Linked DNA regions of Homo sapiens. The protein of the gene in region 2 interacts with the protein of the main gene of each other region in a pairwise test. Each region holds a gene or a part of one and is shown on either strand. Other genes may lie near its edges. The genes, in order: ATXN7 and NELL1.

Region 1 (3,823 bases), on a different chromosome or scaffold from region 2:
CACGTGGTTATTGTGCTAAACCCTTTATTCCCTGCGACCTAGAAAGAGTGAGGCCTGTGCTCACAGATGTACGTAATAAAAAGTTCTACAATGAGTGAATGGACAAAGGCTACAGGAGTCACAAATCTCTCCGCGTGGAAGGCACAGAGGACTTTCGACGGGATATTAGACAGATGAAGAAGTGAGGAGGGGCAGTGAGGATGGGAGACAGACAACAGAGAATGAGTAATGGGAATGAACAGCAGCAAATCCCCTGACGGTGAAGAGAACAGATAACGTTCTAAGTCTAAGACAGAAGAGACCTGGCAGCAACTTGGGAAACACTCAGGGTAGGGACATGCAGGCATGTTTAGCCCTACCAAGCTTAATAGATTCAGACCAACGTGAAGGCAAGGAAAAGGAAAAGAACTGACAAAACAATGAAAAAAAGTCAAGTCATCCTGTAAAAGGGCAGGCCTGGTGGATGCTGCATTTTCTGCCAGTTCTATGCTGATCTCATGACAAGCTGGGTCTCAAGACTTATTAATGCAATGACAGGCTTAGCCCAATGCCACGGAGAGTAATGACACCCTTAAAGAAGGACGACAAGGGGAGCATATATCATTTGAAAAGGAAGATGTGAGAAAAATGCAGACCCATTCAAAGTCACTCCACCTAGCAATAAAGGCACAGGAAGAATGCCAGTCAAGCTCCTTGAAGATTTTGAGTTGAAAAAAAACTTTTGGCAACCTCACTTCTGGGTAGTTATCCAAAATAACTGAAATCAGAATCTCAAAGAGCTATTAGAACTCCTATGTTCACTGAAGTATTATTTATAATAGACAAGATGTAGAAACAATATAAATGTCTGTCAACAGGTGACTGGATGAAGACAACATAGTATATACATACACTGGAATACTATTCAGCCCTTAAAAAGAAGGAAATTCTGCAATATGCTACAACAAGTATGAGGTAAGCTTGAAGACATTATACTAAGATAAATAACCCAGTCACATAATGACTAAACACCGCATGATTCCACTTATATGAGATCTATAATCAAACTCACAGAATCAACAACTAGAGTGGTGGCTGCCAGCGGCTGAAGGGAGAGCGAAATAAGGAGTTACTAATCAATGAGCATAAAGTTTCAGTTATAGCAAGATGAACAAGTTCTAGACATCTGCTGTATAATATTCTTTCACAGTCAACAATACTGTCTTGCACACTTAAAGGTGTGGTTCCCTGCCACGCTTTGTAAATGACTGAAAAAGAACATCTTGGGTTTGAAAAAAGCAAACCTCATTGCCCACAGGTACTGTATTACTGAGAAATCCATGTTACTGAGAGTCAGGTAGGCAGGAAGAGCGCAGAAGGAGAATGGCAAGTTGTGATCATGATGTGGACAGGGCTGAGGCATGCTTTCACACATTCTCTTAGGGACAGCTGAAACTGACATAATTCTACAGAACTCAGGTGGCTATCTTCATACACCACCACCACTACACCACTGTGTGTCCAATTAGTACCCTATACAAAAAAAAAGCAGTTTGTTTTATGAGAGTTTTTAACCTAGAAATCCAAGGATGGGCTTGGGGTGGGGGTGTCCATTAATCCAAGATAGAAAAATTCAGAATGTGTATGTGTATGCACTATTTTATTCTCGGAAGATGGACCGTGGTTTTTTTTTTTTAAAAATGAGATATTTAAAGGTACTCTTGACCAACCCTTTTCCCCAAAAAGGTTCTGAACCACTGTTGTAAGACAAAATCTATATACTAAAATTAAATTAGAAGCTTAAAGTAAGAACCACTTAAAAATTTCCCACTCCAGAAGACTGTAACATGCCTCCACTGGCTGGGGCATGGGACAGGGCCTGAAGTCCTTTATTCAAATACACTTTAATAAAATTTAAAGTAAAACACTAACAATTTTATTAATTTTTAGAAGAAAATGCTAACTTTTATCATTTTTACTTCCTCCCTCTAAGGTTTTAAAATTACATACTTCAAAGCAGTGACTCTGAATGCTTCTTGAACCTATCTGGGGGGTAGCTGGGGACACCCTCCAGAGAAATGCACATCAACATACAAGCTCATTTATGTAGAGGTGTTCACTGATGACCTGAAGCCACCCCACATCAATAACCCACACTTTTCAGCAAATATACCTTATTAGCATACTGGCATTTTAAAAGAAGGAAGACCCCAGAGCAAAAAGGAAGACCATTACATTTTCTTAGCTTGTATATAAATTATTAATATATTTTATCTAGTTTTTTTTTTCTCTTAAAAGAGATGGGTCTCGTAATGTTCTCCAGGCTGGACTCAAACTCCTAGGCTCAAGCAATCCTTCTGCCTCAGCCTCCCCACTAGCTGGGACTTACAGGCATGCCTGGCTTGCAGTATTTTTTTTTTAAACTAGAAAACAGGGATATTTCAAAATCACAGATTTTTTAAAAAGTGGTTCTTTAAAATTTAAGACCATGGGTGACACATTTTTTAAATGTTCATACACACGCAAGGGAAATTTCTGCACTTGCTTTAAGCCAGTATAATTTAAAGCACAGTCAAGGGTAGCCTATATGGAAATATTAAAAGTTTTTAAAAATAACAGACTGGGAGAGAACACTATTCCTGTGGATACAACACTGCTCATTAGAAACAAAACCTCTGTCAAGATTATAATTTATAACAACGCACTTCACATTTTGTCAATCTGAGGCTTTCTTCAACAGAACCAAGTTATTCCTTCACCTACACAATTCACAACAATCCACAGAGCATCTTCTCTGGGTTAGAGAGACTGTGGGAGTAGTGTGGTACATCCCAGTCACCCATGTTTATCAGGATGGTCGACTTGACTTTCAGGAGTCCACCTACCTTGCATGTCAAAGACCGGGTGCAGGGCTTCTTGGTGTCGAGATCAATAACCCCACAGTGGATGTCAGGATCAAACTCTCTTTCTGTCAAAAGAACACAGGCATTACATGTGGCCTGACAAACTCTCCTCCATGTATTTTTTAAGCAAGAAAATAGAAGAAATCAACAGTTAGATAAATTATAGCTGGAATAAAAGCCACATTATCAATAAAATAAAAAATATACAACGTGTGAGTGCTGCAACAAAGCAGCAACATCACTAAGACAGGGGGTGACTACTGCCATCAGATGGTAGAAAAGATATTGTTTAAGTCTGTATTACTTCCTTCAGAAATACACCACTAGAAAGCTACTTTTACATGACACACACACACACACACACACACACACACACACACTCATGCTCTTTAAAACCCAAGAGTGAAAAGAACAAACATATTAACTAAGGAACTTCCTCCTAAAGCTGAAGTTGACCAGTTTTAAAAATAGGAATTCTAGATTGCAGTTGATTTGCTCCCCACGAATGCCCATTTAATATATAGAGAAGCATTATGAAGAAAGAAAATTTGAAGTTACCTGATAATCTCTTATTTAAAAATTTCCTATTATTGGAATTGTCTTCAGGTTTCTTTTCCAGAGTGGGCGGTGCAGGAAGCCCTTTGCCATTCAGAATCTGTCCAGGTGAAGGCAAGGTTGGCTTTGGTATTGAGGGGCAGTTAAGGCCAGGCTTGACTAAGGAACTCACAGTAGCAGGACAGGTTGGCCCCACCGCAGATTTCAGTAGTGTGCCATCCATTTTCGGATGAATCTTTTCCACTTTCACAGAGGGTGTCATGCTGTCACAGGAGGAAGTGAGAAAACCAGTGCCTGAGTGCCTCAGCAGCCCCCAGGTGAATGGTGAGCCAGAGGGATGAGGATAGAGCCTGGGCCTACCCAAGCGCTGCACAGGGCCAGCCTCT
Region 2 (3,823 bases):
ATGAAGTGTTTTCTCCGGCCCGAATGACCTGTACCACCTCAATTACTTTTCTGAAATACATCACTGGTTTCATCCTACCTGCCCATGTGTGCTAACTAGATTATGCAGAAAACAAAAAGTCTATTTTTATAAGAACATAAATAACACATTTGCAGACTCTGTCAATCATTTCTGAGGCTCTAACAATCTGTTTTGTATTTTCCTAGACAAACAATGGCATTCTTCAGATATTTATCAAGTAATTTCAACTGGACAGGGTTTCCATACTAATTTTTGGAGGGGGATGTTGTAATTCACTGAAACAGATGAAGGGATATACAAATAATGGATATCCTCACACTGACAGTGAGTCAGGGAGGAAATGCCTTGCAATTATTTGAAACAGGTGATGGATACACTTTGCAAAAGACAATAAAAACATGTAGAAAATAATTAAACTCCCCTTTTAAAGTTATTCTGGTTGTGAATAAGGATAACCATTAGGTTGTTTGAAAATCAAAGGAGTCCCTTCTTTCCACTATATCCCAACCTTCAAACTCCAAACATTGCCTATTAAATCAAATTAGGGTGTGTTGGCAAGGGAAAGCAGATTTTAATTTCCAAGTATTCATATAAGACATGACACTCTTCCAGCATTGCTTCACAATTGCTCGTATGGCTAGTGGGTGCTAGGTAAAAACCTAACAATTCTCAGAGTTAATATTATTTATTAAAGAACCAGGTTACACTCTAATTATCAAACCTCTCCCCTTAAAACTGTTTTTACTGTATTTATTTACAAAGAGGCTTACTTTGCAAGTGCAGTTCCTGCAATGGTCACCATCTACCCAAGAGTCTTGATCTCGATAGAGCAGTCCACTCACTTGACAAGTCTTCTCACAATGACAGTTTTCCAATTGACTAAGTCTTGTCTCTGCATAATTTAGCTGCAAACAAGAGTTACTGAATGTAATTTCTGTAATTCAATTGCATCATCCTAACAAAGCTAATAGCAACAAGAAAAAAAATCCTTCTGAGAAGAGAAAAAAATGCTCAGAGCAGTTCACTGATTCTTAGCATTATCTGTTTTTTGTTTTTTTTATTTTTTTTACACAAGGTGGAATCACTCTAAATTGAAGAAATATTGGCTGTCATGGTCTAATGAATACCAAATGAGACATTAAACTGTAACTCAGGAACCTCATGGGTGTTCATAAATGTGTGTGCTTTCCATTCAAGCCCACACAAAAACACTCATAATGAATGTGTTCTCAAGGACTCATTATGATGTTTACAGGCGATCTAATCAGGAACTCCGAGGCACTTACATTTATCTCCCACTATCCTCTCTATGTTCTTCACACACTAACTAGAATGTCGTGGTTTACAAACTAGGAAGTCACTGCCTTCTGTCTGATGAAAAATTCTGGAGAGCTGGGGTCAGAAAAAAAGAAAAGTCGTAAGCGGATCCCCCAAACAGAATGCCCCAGGAATTCACTTTTGTGCTTAGAAGAAGGACAGGAAAAGTAACCAAAACCCCAGGTAAGATCAGAATTTTGTAAAATAACCTTTTTTATTTTTCTAGGCCACCCAGTCATTGCCAATAATCACAGAGTCTTAGACTCTCCTGCTGGAAAGGGATTATAAAGCTTGAATATCCTCACAAGAAACCTCAAGTGATTATCTAGCCTTTGTACATCTCCAGTGGAGGAACATGTATTATCTTCCAAGGAAAGCCACTTTTCTCAGTTAGCTCTCTTGTTTGAAACATTTTTCATGGTTTTGGCTGTGAAATCTTTCTTTTTTTCCTGCCATACCTAGGTTTTCATTGTAATCCATCCTGAGCAAACCTAATCTTCAAGCATTTGAGGTTATCCTGTCGTCTTGACCACACTTGGCACCACCAGGTTCCCTTAACAGCTCCTCATGATATGATTCCAAGCCTCTCTTCTGATCACTTTTCATACAGCCTACTCCAGTTTACCTTCAAAAATATGGTGCAAAAAAACCCTAAATACAGCACTTTGATATGATCTGTCTACTGTCACATCCACACGAAAGAGTAACTCAACCTAGTAGTGATATTACTCTTCCTTTCCTTTCCCTTACATAGAGACCACCATGATTGAAAAACAAGTATCGTTTCCTAGAAAATTATCTGAGTTTCTCTTTTCCTTCTCAATCATGTTTATCCTTTCATGTCTTAAGTACTTTCCCCATACAGGAGATCAATTCAACCTTTGATCTAACTAAGATTATTTTGAGCCACTATTTTAGACATAATAGATAAACCTAGGGAATGACTTCCACCATCTTTCTACATTAACTATGGTTCCATTTCATACACCTTCCTCTGACTTACTCATACCAGAACTACTCTCTGGAAATGGAATCCACATGTAATTCTAACCTTTGTTTTTGTCATTTATTTCATCCTCTTCCTCCAAGCTTTTGGAATTTCTCAAGAAAATTTACCCCTTGTCTGCCTTTTGTGGGTGGTAGCAAAGGGTAGAAAAAACAAAAAATAGGATCTTAGACCAACCACCATGCACCATGAGCAGCCCCTAAAGAACTAAGAGTTGACGCTGCCTGAAATATTAGCTTCCTATCACTCCTTCTAATATGCATGATCTTCTAAAAATCCATGTTTCATTTAAAACTCCAGCCTAGGTCAAGTGCAGTGACTCACACCTATAATCCCAGCACTTTGGGAGGCCAAGACGAGCAGATGACCCAAGGTCAGGAGTTTGAGACCAACCCAGCCAACATGGCGAAACCCTGTCTCCACTACAAATACAAAAAAAAAAAAAAAAAAAGCCGGGTGTGGTAGCGGGTACCACCAGCTACTCTGGAGGCTGAGACATGAGAATCTCTTGAACCTGGGAGGCAGAGGTTGCAGCAGGCCAAGATCATGCCAGTGCACTCCAGCCTGGGCAACAGAGCGATACTCCATCTCAATAAATAAATAAATTAATACAACAAAACTCCAGCCTAATCATAGAGTTTATAGAATCTATGATAATTAAGTTATTTGGCAATGCTTTAGGAAACGGATAAAATACACTGCTGAGTTTGGTGATACTCTTGGACACTGAGGGATGATGGCATATGGTTTGGCCACTTGCAGATACCAAAATCTGAAAATCTTCAAGTCCTTTATATAAAATAGTATAGTTTGCATATAACGTATGCACATCCTCCTATACACTTTAAGTCATCTCTAGATAACTTATAATAAGTAATACAATGTCTAAACATCAATTCATTCACATGGATTCAATGCAGTACTCGGTACATGGAAAATTCAAGTTTTACTCTCTGTAACTTTTTGGAATTTTTTTCTGAGTATTGTTGGTCCATGGTTGGTTGAATCCACAGATGTGGAACCTCAATAGAAAGAAAGTAACAACTTATCACTTATCTTTACTTCATTTCCATAGCCCCAGTAGTTCCTACACAAGGCAGTAACAGATATATGACCTTGGATTGAACAACAGAGTTGAACCAGATCTGCATTCCTCCTAAAAGGGTCTCAGAATTGTGTACCTTTGTGAGAGGACCCATACGTGCCTTACTCTGAAAATCTGGAACAATTCTGGTGTCTATATCACTCCAAGAAGGGAACTTCTTAAGGACTAAATGGCCCAAAAGGCAACTCTATATCTATCTGAGCTTTCTTAAAATCCAGGAGCTTGCCTAAGGGAAATAGTGGCAATTTCTAGCACTGTCCCACAAAGCTGAGCTGTGCTCACCTACAAAACTCAATTCCAAAGAAAATGTCAGTTTTAATATAATGAATGCTATTCTCAAGGCTGATTTTGTTTCCCTTCTGAATGTGGTTTTT

The links.
Region 1: the proteins of NELL1 (region 2) and ATXN7 interact in a two-hybrid assay, tested with the Homo sapiens proteins (one study listed by BioGRID and IntAct).

The regions. Positions count from the first base shown.
Region 1 is NC_000003.12:63,982,063-63,985,885, reverse strand, and holds part of ATXN7 (ataxin-7), read right to left. Parts: intron 3,701-3,823; coding exon 3,441-3,700; intron 2,948-3,440; coding exon 2,865-2,947; intron 1-2,864. UniProt on the Homo sapiens protein: Acts as a component of the SAGA (aka STAGA) transcription coactivator-HAT complex. Mediates the interaction of SAGA complex with the CRX and is involved in CRX-dependent gene activation.
Region 2 is NC_000011.10:20,924,411-20,928,233, reverse strand, and holds part of NELL1 (protein kinase C-binding protein NELL1 isoform 1 precursor), read right to left. Parts: intron 1,522-3,823; exon of another isoform or gene 1,438-1,521; intron 927-1,437; coding exon 792-926; intron 1-791. UniProt on the Homo sapiens protein: Plays a role in the control of cell growth and differentiation. Promotes osteoblast cell differentiation and terminal mineralization.